Regions from separate parts of the Homo sapiens genome. Here region 1 is linked to region 2. The links come from fine-mapping of genetic effects on gene expression. Tissue or cell type: tibial nerve. Region 2 holds a variant in brackets; the other region holds the start of a gene. All regions are shown on one strand. Distances are from middle to middle.

What was found. PIP is the estimated chance that this variant, and not a neighbour inherited with it, causes the effect.
Region 1: PIAS1 starts here. The variant in region 2 is fine-mapped to the expression of PIAS1 in tibial nerve (GTEx, PIP 0.98).

Annotation. Positions count from the first base shown.
Region 1 is chr15:68,051,182-68,059,181 of GRCh38, reverse strand. It overlaps PIAS1 (protein inhibitor of activated STAT 1), which reads right to left and starts at 4,867. Exons shown (of 14, transcript NM_016166.3): 1 at 4,832-4,867. The coding sequence starts at 4,855. RefSeq lists a silencer at 4,569-5,068.
Region 2 is chr15:67,951,327-67,959,586 of GRCh38, reverse strand. No RefSeq gene overlaps it. Among named protein-coding and RNA genes, the nearest start is that of PIAS1, 99 kb to the left of the region's middle. RefSeq lists an enhancer at 4,459-4,538. The variant T/G (reference allele first, on the strand shown) is at 4,617.

The DNA of each region.
Region 1 (8,000 bases), 100 kb before region 2:
TACAAAAAAATTAGCGGGGCGTAGTGGCGGGCACCTGTAGTCCCAGCTACACCGAAGGCTGAGGCAGGAGAATGGTGTTAACCCGGGAGGCGGAGCTTGCAGTGCGCCGAGATCGCGCCACTGCACTACTGCCTGGGCAACAGAGGAAGACTCCGTCTCAAAAAAAAAAAAAAAAAAAAAAGTAGAATAATCTGACAGGGACTAGTTTAATAAAACACAATGTAAGGTTTCAAATGATCATATAGACCTGTATTTACTAACCTGGATAGACATGAAAATAGCAGATTATAAATAAAAAACAGTGTTGTATCTTTTTATGATGAATATACATATACATATGCTCACAGAGAGAAAGTCTTAAGTGGATAAATACCCAGATGTTAACCATGATATCTCTGAGTGTTGGGATTACAGGTACTGTTTATTTTTCTGCTTACTTCTCAGATTCTCTGAAATTTTCTCAAGCAAAATGATACTTACAAAAATTAATGTGTATGATTCCAACTAACAAACTCCAAACTTTTTGCAAGGAAGCTTGCAAAATGCCCTAGAATATCCAAAAATACCCTAGCATAGAGCTTTTCCAAAAGGGAAAGTATCAGCAACAACATAAGTAGAAATCTGTGAACTGGGCACCCTAGAGGACTCCAGGTCTGCTGTAGGACCTTTAAGGAGGACTACACAAGACCTAGGCTCAAGTCCCTGCCACTTTTATTTGTATGACCTTGCAATAGTCACGTACCCTTTCTGGGCTCACTTTCTCTATCTATAAAAAGGATTTAGTTATTACTTGCCTTTCCTACCTCAAAGAACTGTTGGAAAGATCAAAAGAGATAATGCAATATATTATGAACTGCAAAGTACTATATAAGTAAGATATTATTATTCAAACATTAAAAAAGCAAGATGCTTCATGCCAGAGTCAAACACTTCAGAAAACACCACAATCAATTCTATGAAGTAATGAATCCGTTTTTGGTTGTTGTTTTGAAAGGCTACATCTCATCATAAACACCCAGTTTTTCTGAGACTTGGATACTTTTTCCCAGTTCCCGCTACAACCATTGGCCATTTTATTTTCTTATCCCTGGTTACCAGCAAAAAAGGGTACAAATTACACTAAACTCAAAAGCCTCAGCAAGAACCCTGGAGCAGCATGCTGATGGAGTTCACCAGGAGACACCCAAGGTTAATCAGCTATGGACTCGCCACTAAGCACTACCGCAATCAACAGGGATTACAAGAAACTCTTTGAAGAAAAAGACAATGGGATCGCCCAGGAGAAAACGGTGGATGAAAAGAAGGAGGTATTTCAAAACAATCATATGAAATACTTAGAAACTATACGTAGTATTTTATAAACTATACTGTAGAGTTTTTAAAATACTGTTGATAAAAATAATGACATAAAACAAAAGCCATCTAAATGTGGCACTTGACAAAAGCAAGTTATAGAGATTCAAATCAAATCCATGAATAAACTATCAGATGTACTTGACTCTATCTGAAATAAAAGCAGACAAATTACAGCGTAAGGATCAAAATTAAGTAGCTATTTCTTGAAAATAAAGAGGCAGAAAATAACAATAGAATTCACTGACACACTCATAGTAACTTTTATAATTATGGTTTCTCTTCCCATTTAATTTCATTATTTACTCCACTAAAATGCTGATGGACTTCTTCTCTCCCACTCTTCTTCCTGTAAATTAAAATGGCACTATAACTTGGTTTGAGTTTTACTCCAAAAAAACACATATTTTTTTTTAAATTACTTTAAGAGGAGTTTCATGAAGCTGTCAGCTTATTAACTACCAAGATCATCTGGCCATCACACCCTCCTGCTTCTAAGTTCCTAAAGATGACAAAATACCCTCCACATTCTTAAAAATGACATTTATGGGTACTCCCCTAATGAAAAATTAAACCTTTCATAAACAAATGTGCATAGAGAATTCATTTTGATATGTATGACTCACAATCTAATTTTTATTGGCAATATCTTGAAGTGTTGCAGCTTGCACAATTCCTACAGGGGATAAAGATCTATCTGTTTTTCCCATCTGATCTTTGCACATTTCTTATAGATTTAAAAGGACTCACTAAAAAAGCCATGAGGAAAATAATTATGAATACAATCCACAGCAAAATGAAGTATGGGGCTGAAACCTAAAATAATGAAAAGTCACTGAGTTTTATGTAAAGCTTCACAGTTGAAGTACTCTATTCCCATTTAAAATTTCAAAAAATCTAGATTTTTTTCTTCTTACTCTGATTTTTCCTATCATATTAGGAATGTATGATATTTACCTCCAAAAAATCACAAACAAAAAGCCTTCAGAAAATATCATTTCCAAAAGGAGTATCTGCCAAACCTTACTGCACAGAAAATTATATATACACATTCTCTTTTTTTTAACACATTCTCAAATAACTATGGTAGGCGTTCCTGAGATCACCTCCTCCACCCCTCAAAAAAAGAACAGCAAATCTAACCACAATAAAGTATTAACCAAATTTTTTTAACGCCGCTATCACCAGCTAAGCAATTTATCACACAGCTCCTCAAAGTCTCAGACACACACAATGACATACCAACATGTCAAAACAGTTATTATAATTTGAAAAATTATACAACAGGAACATAAGAGTAGAAAAAAAAAACTTCCTCTGGAAAAACTCTAGTAGATTTGGGAGAGCACAAAAAACGAGATTAATTTTAGAAAAATAACATTTCTTCAAGTGTTTGGTGTTTATCTGATACTGGTTCATTTTCGTAAAGAGAAACTTTACCTAACAAGACTCACACCAGGGATCTGATCTATCCCCAAAGGCACTTTCTTAAAATGAGAAAGAACAAAGAAGGAAATCTCTCAGCATGTGCTTTCCATACTAGTTTCTTTGGACAGCATCAAGAGTGACAATATAGTCTGCACATGCTTTTCAGCTTTATTCTATGGTCCATGTATAACAACTGATTAGCTATCATTCAAAAGAACTCCTAACAAAATAAATATTACAAGGCAAAGATCACAGCAACATAGTGACTCTAAGAGAAAAATTATAGAAAACATGTCTTAAAGTTGTGTGCTTTTTTTTATTTCAAGGGTTAATTATCTCCAAATATTCAAATTCCTAAGGCTTTCTCATTTCAGTCAATAGTTTGAAACTGGGGAAAAATCAAAACCATCCATTGTAAATCTGCTCTCCCTTCAGTAAATTTGTAATTAGAAGTACATTTTAAAAGAATGACACTCAAAGCCAATACCTTAACATACGAATCTTGGAGTGTAAACATTGTGAAGTTATTAGGAGAAAAGCTCTTTCGGTGAGGATATTCCACAGGAAAAACTCTACAGAATCAAATCTGGCATTTGGTTGTTCTAGAAGTTGTCGTTTCATTATAACGGGGAAAAAATTAAATAATTTTTATTTATTATAAAAAGAAGACTCTCCCCAAAGATTTACAATTGTATATCCCCATCTCCTCTCTGACAGAGATGTCAGTTCTCTGGGTCGAGACATAACCAGCTGCTGGGTTCACACACACAGGAAGCCACAGAGAAGATCGCGTTCAGAGCCTCGAAATAATACGCGTTAGTTAAGAACTGCCTGCTACTAAACCAAAATTATTCAAGCGGAGCCCCATTTGTCACAATCCAGTCATAAGGGTTCCACCACCCCCTCCCCCAACTGCTTGTGTAGTGGTATATCTGCTACGGTAAAGAAGCCATCATCAGGTAAAGATTGGGGTGGGAGAAAAGCGGGGAAAAGGGGGCACCCTTTCATCTAATTTCGTGAGGCGTGAGTAATTGGTACTGTTAAGAGGAACGTTCTATTTATCGGGGGTTGGAGTAGCATGAGGGGAGAATTTCGTTCAAATCAACATGGCCAGCAAGATGTCCCTACAAACAAAAGGCAATGGGGGGATATAAACACGAACCATTCACCTCCATCAGCTACAGCATCGCCATCATGGTGTGTGCAGAGACCCCCAAAGGCTCCTCTCACCCTCCACACCAGCTAAGGCAAAAGAAGGGAGAGAGGTAGCTGCATCCCCCCCTCCCAACACTGCTTCCAAAGACACACTCTTCGAGGGGGTTTCTCCCCTCGGCTGCCCGGAATCAGAGAGAAAGAGTAACGTCCCGCTCACTACCTCTCAGCCGAACCCCAACGCCGGCCCGGGGCTCGCTAAACTTTACCAGAGCTTCTCCCCCAGATCCCCACCCTATCGCCCCGGGATCGCGCTTCCCACAAGCGGGGCACCCCAGGCGCTTCCTGACAAGCGAGCAGCCGGGGAAAGCCGAGTCCGGGGCGGGGGCTACTGGGATCCACGGAGGGGCGGGGCGGCCGAAGCCAAGTTCCCGGGGGTCTGAGAAGAGCGCCTGACAGGAGCCCGGGACTGCAAAGGAGGAAGAGGAAGCGGCCACGGGGAGCTTTCCCAATCCCCCCTACGAGAGCACCCTGCCCCCAGCCCCAGCTCCCCATGGGGGGCAGGGAGGCTAACTGGAAGGTGAAAAAGCCGAGCCCATGAGACAGCTGCAGCCCCTACCTCCGGACTCCCTATCTCTTCCCCCGCCACCCCCGCCAGAGGCGCCCACAACAATAACACGCCGGGGACGACCCGTCAGCGCCCCCGAGGCACCCGGGGCCCGCGGCCCGCCGCAGGCGGGCCCCCTCTGCTGAGACCGGGCGCGCCTCTCTCCCTACAACTCCAGGCCCGGGTGGAGTCAGGCCCGAGAGGCCCCCCAGGGTCGGACCCATCCCCCCTGGCAGCAGCGGCGCCGTCTCCGCGGCCGAATATTAGAAGTGAATTCGAGCTGCGCTTTACCTTTAGTTCCGCACTGTCCGCCATCTTGCGTCTGTCAGCGCAAGCGCAGTGAACTTCGCCGGGGGCCGCCGCTAGACCCGCCCCTCTAGCCGGCCTGGCCCCGCCCCGGCCCGCCCCTCCACCTTCCCAGCCCGCCTCTAGCCTCCGCCCCGCTCAGGGCGCTCGAAGCCCCGCCCCGGGCACGTACAGCTGCGAGACAGGCACGTTCCATTTAAATAATGGCGCCAAGCGGCGAGGTTTGACAGTTACTGCCCCCTCGGTCTCCCTGCCCCCCATCCTAGCTCGGCCAGCTCCTCCCGGGAAGGGCCGGAGCGAGAGGGATGCTGGCCTGAGCCCCATCTCTCTGCGGTCCGCGGAACGCTTCTGCATAGCTTCGACGCCTACGGTCACAGAAACAATGCTGTCCCCCAACCCCCAATAAGCAAGGCTTTTTCAGCACCTGCTACCTGCGAGGCTACCAGTGGGCTAAAAATAGAAATCCATTACATTTAAGGGGCCCTTAATGAAGCATTTCTATCATTATTGGCTCAGATCCTCTTGATAACGAGGGGAGGTAGGCAAGGAAGAGATAATTCCCATGGTATAGATTCAGAAATGAAAGCTCAGAGAGGAAAAGTGACTTGCACAAACAAGTATTTTAACGAGGTGGCGTAAGACAAAATTTTGAAGGTGTTCATTAACATTTTTGTTTAAAAAAGTATTTATTTAGTGACCATCTGCTTGCCTTGTGCTAACGGCTAAATATACATTTTGAAATCAAAGTCCGTGCCCTTCTGTAGTTCTCTAATGGGGAATCAGAGAAGTGAACGAACAAAGATACAATTGCAAATGTTAGTGAGTACCAGAAAGGAGCAAAAGGTCATTGAGAGAGAGAAAGGGTTTGGGAGATGTACTTAATTCTGGGAGGGTTTTATCCACTAAATTGACATTTAAGTAGACTTGATGGAAGGATTATTTCATTCCTTTTCGTCTCTACTGAAAGCCTTCTATATACCTCCTCCCCAACCCCCACTTTTACTAATCAACTTTGCCTCATAACTCATGGAAAAAATGAAAGATATCAGAAATAAACTCCCTTATCTTCTCACCATCAAAACCACCCTTATCTGCATAGTAACATTTGGGTTGCTATGAATGAAGTGTCCCTGCGCCTAGGAAGGCCAGTCCCTTTACCAGTGACCGGATTTTTTTCACGCACATTCCTAAGGATTTTACTCTTACAATTACCTACCCTCCAGCATCGTTAGTTTTTTCCCTCTCAATTGAATTGCTCCTATCAGCATATAAATATATTGAAATTTCTCCCATCTAAAATAAACTTCCTTTGACTCCAAAATCGCCTCTAGGAACTGCCCTATTTTTCTGCTATCTTCATAAATTCTTAGAAAGGTTTTTCAAGATCTCTCCAATAGTGCTTGTTCCTACCTCTCACTTCACATTCACTTCTCAGTCTACCCTGATCGAGCTTTGGCTTCCATCATCTGTATCACTTATCAAGATTACTAATGATCTTGTTTCCAAAGGCAATTGCCAATTCTCTATCCATATCTCAATTGACCTCTCTGTAGAATCGCGAATAATTGACATGGTTCCTTTGATTTGAAACACTTTTCCCCCTGAACTTACCTACACGTCACAGATAGTCCTGTTCCCTCACTGGGCCTCCTTTTTGATATGCTGGTTTCTCCTCTTTGGCTCAATCTTTAAATGTTGGACTGCTCCAGGGCTCGGTCCTTGCATTCTTCTCTATTTTATCACCAGGTGATCTCATCTAACTGGTTGACTTGAAGTCTATATGCTCATGACTTTGAAAATGCTCTCTAGCCTAAACCTCTCCATTGTCAAGAAACAAAAGTAAAACAAATTGAGATTCAAGATCTCATTGGCATTATTGCACTCCTAGAATTGGACAAAACTTCATTCCACAAAATAGAATAAATGTTGCAATGAATCAAGCAGAGGATGTTAACTTTAGAGACAGAAAATAGACTGAAGAAGGCAGAAACAACAAAAAGCAGATTGGTTATATCAAAGTCACTTTTCTTTAAGGTGGAGACGTGGAGACAGAACAGTAGAAAGAAAACTGATTGGTTAACATTGGGTTACTTCAGGTATTCTATTTTAAGGATTAAAACAGGAAATTTCATTATCATGCCTGTTAAAGATTGAAACTTCTGTTTGGAAAATTGGCTATCTCTCTTACCATTTTTTGGAAAACCAGATAACTCAGTTTTGTTTTGGTGAACATGGGTGACACCATTTTGATTTTTAGTCTGATCTGGAGGCCTGATGCAGGAATTTGGTTGAAAACAATGGCATCCCATGATTTTTATTTAACAACCTAGGTGAAATTGTGACTAAGACTGAGGGCATTAGCACTACCCTCATTTAACATCATTCTGTGTTTCCAGTCTCAACACATCATTTATAGATTACAGTGTCCTCATGATTTTGTATTTCTGTCATTGCAGCTGAAGAGAGACCATATGACATTCAACAATTGGCTGTATGCAAATATGTAAAACTTTTTGAGAGAACATAATTGAGAATTGTGACTATCAGGAGGACAATGCCAAGAGTTCGGAGTATGCTTCTTAGCTAGGGTTGCCATAAACCAAACCAACTAAAATCAAATAGATCAAAGAATGAGCCAGATGAGAAATCTACCTGTTTTCACCAAGTAGCCTGCTAACTTTTTGAAACTGAGTCTCTACAATACCAGATTATTTATGTACAACAAGAAGTGACAGCAACAGCACAGATTTCCCCGTTTGGTTAGTACGCAGCAATTCTATCATCTAGCATCTCAGAAATGGGTTAAATTAAAGCAAAGAGTGCTAACTCTACAAAAGAGGCCACTAGTAAAATTTGAACAAACAGTTGCATTAGGGATGTTGCTAAAGTTACCCACTAGGTGGAATAAAAGCTCTCTTGGGTCCTGTAAATGTTTGGGTTTGACCCTTTATCAACTTACCCACAAAAACTACTAATTGTGAAATTTTAACTACAGCATTATCCTGCCAAGTGGAAGAGGTGGGCATAAGCAAGAAAAAATTAAGAAGGGAAGGAGTCTTATCATGGTAGCGAGTCTTATTCTGACAGTCTTGGAAAACGCTGTCCACAACATGATGTCAGCAATTTCTCATCCTGGTTTGCAGTTTAAATGTCT
Region 2 (8,260 bases):
ATTTCATTCTTTACAAGCATGATACAGTGACTAGTCCTCACACCTGGGAGACAATATAAAAGCCTCCTGCCAGACCCAAAATAAAAGGAAAAGAAACTGGCCAGGCATGGTGGCTCACGACTGTAATCCCAGCACTTTGGGAACCTGAGGCGGGTAGATTACGAGGTCAGGAGTTAGAGACCAGCCTGACCAACATGGTGAAAACCCGTCTCTACTAAAAGTACAAAAGTTAGCTGAATGTGGTGGCACATGCCTGTAAACCCCGCTACTCTGGAGGCTGAGGCAGGAGAATCACTTGAACCCGGGAGGCGGAGGTTGCAGCGAGGTGAGATCACACCACTGCACTCCAGCCTGGGTGACAGAGTGAGACTCCATCTCAAAAAAAAAAAAAAAAAGGAAAAGAAGCTGGAAAATAGGACCTCAGCTCAAAAGCATGTTTCCTCTTGAGTGCATTTTAATATCTATACCAGGTTCCATATATCAAATGCTTAAATTTTTAAAAAGTGTTCTAGAAAATAAGGATACTCTGGTTAGAGTAAGTGAAAGTTCTTTACCTCTCCACAGTTTGCCTCTTAAACAAATAAACCAAAACAGCCCACACAGCCACATGCAAGGGAACAACTAGGCAGCACCAACTTTCCTTCTAACAGTCATGGAAGTCAGCAGGACATGGTTAGGAGTCATTTGGAATTACTGTAGCTCCATGCTGGCAGCATTGCCCAGTGGCCCCTGACTCTGAGGTTTCACCATCAGGCAACAAAGCCACTCTGCCTCCACGGCTACTCCTCCTACAGCCTCGCTCTACCTAAGGGCTTGCTTGCTGCCTTATCTCTGCATGGGTTAGCCTCAACCTCCTCAGCATGGGATGTCCTCTTGAGACTCACATTCAAACTCTCCAAAAGAGAGGATTTGATTGGTTCCATTGGTTTCTGATGTTCTTTGGAGACTGACTCCTTGGCTTTCAGTCTATAGCCAACTGTTGTTGGGTTTGCTGTCCATCTCTGCTCCATGGTGGCAGGGTCAAATGATCGGCTTTCTTCAAAAGGAGCTCCACATGGGCAGGTGCTCCAAGAGTAAAATAATCTGTTTCCCAGTACTGACTTGTTCCAGCTGCATACACTACTACAAGATTTGACATCTGTCTTCCCAGTTTATAGATTAGAAGCAATTAACAATAAAGAGGGGAAATGGAAAATGAGAAAGCATTTACAGTCATTAACCAAACATTACTAATGAACCAACATTTATTAATCACTTTCTAAGCAATAAGATCTGGCTGCTAAAAGCATAGCGTGAGGAAACAGGCCAACAATTATAATATAAAAAATTATAATTGAGATATAAGAACTGAAGAGGCTAGCAATTGGGGCCATTTAATGTCAGGGCAAGTTTTGCATCCTTTCGTAAGCCCAATCTGCTCCCATTTTAAAGCACTAAATAAAAGCTAAGATTCAAAATAAATCTGAGCCATGAAAATATTAAGCTGGGTTCTAAAGACTCAACTCAGTGGATAAGAACAACTTAGGTTTTTTATTACTGCTCTGTCACCACCCCTTCAACAAAAATCATCTACAGGCCAATTTGTGTGATCTCTGTACAGACATCAGGCTTTTAATGCTTTTTCATAGTCTATCCCAGACACTCTTGGGACTCTTGGGTTTAGGCAGAGGCTCTTGGCATAAATTTCAACCCTACATGTCAAAACAAATGTTCATGTTCCACACCCATTATCTTCACTAATAACTACAGCTGCTGCTGCTGCTATTAAAATTAGCACATACAGGGTGTCAACACTGTCCCAGGCACTTTACATAGATGAACCCTCTCAATATAGTATTATGCCCACTTCGAAGATGAGAAACTCAGGCAGGTGCCTGGGAAGGTGTGTTGGCCCCATGGGGTGGGACAGATGTCAACGCTTGGAGAAGTCAGCCAGGCTGGGAATCCAAGCTACACTTCCTCATTCCAGTAGGATGAGGAGCAGCCTAAGTGGATGGCTCTTCCTCAGGCTTTCTCCTTTTTGGTCTCCTTAAATATCTATAAAGCTTTTGTTGCTGTTGTTGAAGTTCTAGGGAAAGCATGAAAGAGAAGCAGCAACACCCTGTGGGCAGGAGGCAGTAGCATTCAGGGTGAGAAGTGTCCTCTCAGGAAACACTGTCAAGGCTGGCCAACTGCCCTCTCCCACTGGTCTTACTGCTCTCTTTTTGAGATGGAGTCTTGCTCTTGTCTCCCAGGCTGGAGTGCAATGGCGAGATCTTGGCTCATTGCAAACTCCGCCTCCGAGGTTCAAGTGATTCTCCTGCCTCAGCCTCCCGAGTAGCTGGAATTACAGGCATGCGCCATCACACCCAACAAATTTTGTGTTTTTAGTAGAGATGGGGTTTCACCATGTTGGCCAGGCTGGTCTCAAATTCCTGATCTCAAGTGGTCCGCCAACCTCAGCCTCCCAAAGTGCTGGGGTTACAGGTGTGAGCCATGGCGCCTGGCTCTCCCTGCTGTCTTACTCCAGCTATACTCCTTCCACAGACGACTTTGGAGGTCCTGGGTTTTGCTTGGAGGTTCTGGGTTTTGCTCTCAGGAGGGAAACAAGGTTCCTTTCATATCTGTGATACGTACATTTGCCAGATAATTCAAGTTGGGATATTCTAAACAACCATTTCTTTAGATTTTTCTAAGCTCAATCTTGTATCTATTTGGATTCTCAGAAATCTTTCTGGTTATAGAATGTTTGTTTCTTTTAAAAAATCCAGGATCATTATTAAAAGCAACTAAAACTAGCCATTCTCATTTAGGATCCCTGCAGGGGATCTATACAATTTGAGGTGAGTTTAATACAGGGACTATTTACAAAGTTGTGCAGACAGAGCTTAGGGAGCCCACCAAAGGACACTGACACACCCTGGGGCTAGCAAAAGAGGGGAGCAGTTATCATTCAGAGGCCTGGAGGGGAGAGAGGAGACAGTAGTTACCAGTACCAAGACAGGGTGGCCTGAGGTAGAGGAATGAAGATAAAGCATGGTGACTTGGAAAGGAAGAAACCAAGGAAATACATCCCTTTCCTCTGGCCCTCCTCCTATCTCCTGCCAGTATTTCTCATTTGCCAAACTCTACCGGAAGGCTGAGAACCAGAGAGGCCACTGACATAGTCCATGGAAGTCAGCCCCTCCTGGGGCACAGAGTAGGGTGAGAAAAGATTGGAAATGGACATGGATATGGAGGGGCAAATGGAAGATACCCAAGGCTTCCATTATTAATGAGCATCGACAACAATATTAATCATTTCCATTTAAGTCCCTGCTTTGTGCCCTTCATACCAATCTTGCATTTTACAGATAAGAAAATGATGGTTCACAGGTTAGTGTTCTCGAGTGTCCCTGTAGATTAGAAGTCAAGATAACCCTGCAAGAGGGAAATTAATAAGGATCAAAACAAAAACGGATGATCTCAGCCATCTAGATATGTTAGCTATCTGTTGCTGCTAATGAATTTTCCCCAAATTTAGTAGCATAAAACAATAAACACTTAGTATTTCACACAGTCTCTGTGGGTCAGGAACAGCTTGGCTGGGCGGTTCTAACTCGGTCTCCCATGAGATTTTCAAGAAGTTGACCAGGTCTGCAATCGTCCGAATGCTGGATGAGGCCTGGAGAATCCACTTCCTAGGTGGCTCTTGCACCTGGCACCATGATTTGAATATCTGTCTTTAAATTTAACTGACATTGTCATAGTATTAAGAGGTGGAACATTAAGAGGTTATTAGGTCGTAATGGCTCTGCCCTCAGAGGTGGGATTGATACTGTTACAAAAGGATGAGTTCATCCCCTCTTTTTCTCTCTCTTTGCCTTGCTGCCATGTGATGACACAGCAAGAAGGCCCTTGCCAGATGCCGCTGTCTTAATCTTGGACTTCCTAGTGTGTAGAACTGTGAAGAAATAAATTACTGCTCTTTATAAATTACCCGGTCTCAGGTATTCTGTTAGAGCAGCACAAAATGCATGAAGACACTCACCCTGCAAGTTAGTGCTGGGTTTTAGCAGGAAACCTCAGTTCCCACCACGTGGACCTCTCCACAGGACTAGTTGAGTGTCTTCATGAAATGGCAGTTGGCCTACCCTGAATGAATAATTCAAGAAAGCCAGACAGGGAGGAAGCCACATTCCCTTTTAAGACCTAATCACAGAAGCTGCACGCACTGTTACTTCTGCCACATGCTATTCATTACAAGTACGTCACAAAGTCCGGTCCACCCTCAACAGGAAGGGAATTAAGTTCCATCTTTTTTTCTTTTTAAGAGACAAGGTCTCGCTCTGTGGCCCAGGCTGGAGTGCAGTGGCATGATCATAGCTTACTGCAGACTTGAACTCCTGGACTCAAGTGATCCTCCTGCCTCAGTCTCCTGAGTAGCTAGGACTACAGGTACATGCCACCATGCTCAGCTAATTTCATCACTTGAAGAGCAGAGTAGTAAAGAATTTTTAGGCGTATTTTAAAACCACCATATGTCACAATAGCAATATTGAAGACATTGTGGTTATATAACTGAAGAATTTGGGGAGGACTTGAAACTGCACTGAAACATGACCATCACCAAACAAGGTGAAACCTCCCGAGCACAC[T/G]GTGTACTGCCTGAAGAAAGAGCTGGCAGAAGAGGAATAGTTTCCCAGGCATCTGTGCAAAGATGGCCCAGGGGAAAATGCTGCACAGGAAATGGTGATCCTAGTGAACACAAGCTTTCCGATAAAAGGAGAGGCATACTTGGTTTAGGAACAGGAACCTGTCATGTCTGGATGAAATATGTGTCAGAATTATCCATTTCCCCTGGGCAAGGCTTACCTTCTGGGAAGGCAATGTCTTAGGCAGCAGACACGAGGATTTCACTAAATCTAAAGAACTACCTCCATTTAATATCAAGTAATTGCTCATTTTTGATGCCCAATAGTGTCTTATGAGTGTGGCTAATGTGACATCAGCCTGAACATTTCCAGATTTGCATAGCTAAGGACTGAGTAGATCCACGGAAGTAGAAATCCCACCCTGGTATGGCCTGCCTGCAGAGCAATCACTGCCTCAGGTCACAGCCTTATCTTACCATGCCTTTTGTTAGTGCAGAACCTATTCCACAAAAACTCATGTGATGATAGGGCACTGTTTATGACAGCAAAATAGTGCAAACAACTCAAATGTCTCCAGGAAGGGATTGGTAGAATAAACTGTTACACAGTGGAGTATTATATGGCTGTAAAAAAGGAGGAGGAAGATGTTTATAACCAGTGCTTTCTGAAAGAAATTTCTGTGATAATGGACATATTCTATTCTTGGACAAATGGTAGCCATCAGCCGCATGTGGTTATTGACTGCTTGAAATGTGAATAGTTCAGCTAAGGAACTAATCTTGTTTTTTTTTAAGACAGAGTCTCACTCTGTCACCCAGGCTGGAGTGCAGTGGTGCTATCTTGGCTCACGGCAACTGCTGCCTCCTGGGTTCAAGCCATTCTTGTGCCTCAGCCTCCCCAGTCGCTGGGATTATAGGTTCGTGCCACCACACTTGGCTAATTTTTGTATTTTTAGTAGAGACGGGGTTTTGCCATGTTGGCCAGGCTGGTCTCCAACTCCTGGCCTCAAGTGATCCACCTGCCTCAGCCTCCCACAGTGCTGGGATTACAGGCGTGAGCCACTGCACCCAGCTAAATTTTAATTGTATTTAATTTTTGCTTAATAGCCATATATGGGTAGTGACTATTTTATTGGACAGCACTGCTTAATACAGATCTCCAGGATAGATTGTTAAGTGAAAACACAATATACAGGAAGTGTAGACCAGTGTATATAGGATGTTACTTTCTGTGAATGAAAGGAAGAGAAAAACATATGCATTACTTATATTTGTGGAAGTTGCATAAAAACACTGAAAGGATAAATTTAAATGGTTGCCTCTTCGACAAGAACAGGATGGAATGAAAGTGAGACTTTGCAGTGTGTGTGGTTTTTTTTTTTATTTTAATTTCCCTTTTCATTTTTTTTTTTTCTTTTTGAGACAGGGTCTTGCTTAGTCACTCAGGCTGGAGTGCAGTGGTGCAGTCACAGCTCACTGCAGCCTCAACCTCCCAGGCTCCTCTGGCCTCAGCTCCTGAGTAGCTGGTGACATATGCACCACCATGCCTGGCTAAGTTTTGTATTTTTTTTTGTAGAGATGGAGTTTTCACCATGTTGCCCAGGGTGGTCTTGAACTCCTGGGCTCAAGTGATTCTCCCGCCTTGGCCTCCCAAAATGCTGCAATTACAGGTGTGAGCCACCATGCCCAGTTCTAGATTCTTTAAATTGTGCTAAAAATAAATAAATAAATAAATAAATAAATAAAAATAACATAAAATTTACCATCTTAACCATTTTATAAAATTAATAAACTTTACTTTTTAGGACAGTTTTGGGTTCACAAAAAAACTGAGTAGAAAGTACAGAGAGTTCCCATCCCCACTCCTGTCCCCACGTACGCACAGCCTTCCACTATCAACATCCCATACCACAATGGTACCTTTGTTACAAGCAGTGAACCTTCATGGGTACAGCATTATTACCCAAAGTTCATAGTTTACATTAGGATTCACTCTTGGTGGTATACATTCTATGGATTTTGACATACATATAATGACATGTATCTACCATTGTATACATGTATAATGACGTATGTATAATGACATGCATCACACAGAATAGTTTCACTGACCTAAAAATCCTTCATGCTCTGCCTATTCATACCTCTCTCCCTTCTAACCCCTGGCAGCCACTAATCTTTTTACTGTCTCCATAGTTTTGGCTTTTCCAGAATGCTCTATAGCTGGTATTATACAGTCTGCAACATTTTCACATTGGAAAATGCATTAGTAATATGCATTTAAATTTCCTCTATGTCTTTTCATGGCATGATAGCTCATTTCTTTTTAGTGTTGAATCACTTGACATTGTCTGCATATACCAAAGTTTATTTATCCATTTGCCTATGAAAGGACATATTGATTGCTTCCAAGTTTTAGCAATTATTAATAAAGCTGCCGACTACTATAAACATCTGTTGCAGGTTTTTGTGTGGATGTAAGTTTTCAAATCATTTGGGTAAATAACAAGAAGTGTAATTGATTGATTATACGGTAAGAGTATATATAGTTTTGTGAGAAACTGTCAAAAAGTCTTCCAAAGTGGCTGTACCATTTTGTATTCCCACCAGCAATGAATGAGAGTTCCTGCTGTTCCAGACCCTCATCAGCTTTTGGTGTTGTCAGTATTTTGGATTTTGGACATTCTAATAGGTATGTAATGGTATCTCATTGTTATTTTAATTTGTAATTTCCTAATGATGTATGATGCTTAATATATTTTCATGTGCTTTTACTTGCCATCTGTAGATCTTCTTTGGTGAGATATCTTTCAGGTCTTTGTCTATTTTTTAATCAAGTTGTTTGTTTCCTTGTTGAGTTCTAAGAGTTCTTTGTATATTTTGGGTAACAGTCCTTTATCAGTTATATCTTTTGCATATATTTTCTCCCTGTCTATGGTTGTATTCTCATTCTTTTGACATTGTCTTTTGCTGAGCAGTTCTAAACTTTAATGAAATCCAGCAAATCAATTATTTATTTCATGGATTGTGCCTTTGGTGTTGTATCTAAAAAGTCATGACCATAGCCCAGGCCACCTAGGTTTTCTCCTATGTTATCTTCTAGGAGTAGTGTAGTTTTACATTTCACATTTTACATTTCAGTCTATGATCTATTTTGAATTAATTTTGGGGAAGAGTGTAAAGTCTGTTTCTAGATTCATTTTCTGCATGTGGATGTCCAGTTGTTCCAGTACCATTTTTTGAAAAAATTAGCCATTTTTAGGTGTCTAGTTCAGTAATGTTAAGTATAGTCACATTATTGTGAAACAGATCTTCTGAACTTTTTCATCTTGCAAATCTGAAATTCTATACCCATTTCTATTAGTCCATTTTCACACTGCAGATAAAGACATACCTGAGACTGGGTAATTTATAAAGAAAAAGAGGTTTAATGGACTCACAGATCCACGTGGCTGGGGAAGCCTCTCAATCATGGCAGAAAGTGAAAGGCATGTCTTACATGACTGCAGACAAGAGAGAATTTGTGCAGGGAAACTCCCCTTTATAAAACCATCAGATCTCCTGAGACTTATTCACTATCACAGGAATAGCACGGGAAAGACCCACACTCCTCATGATTCAATTACCTCCCACAGGGTCCCTCCCATG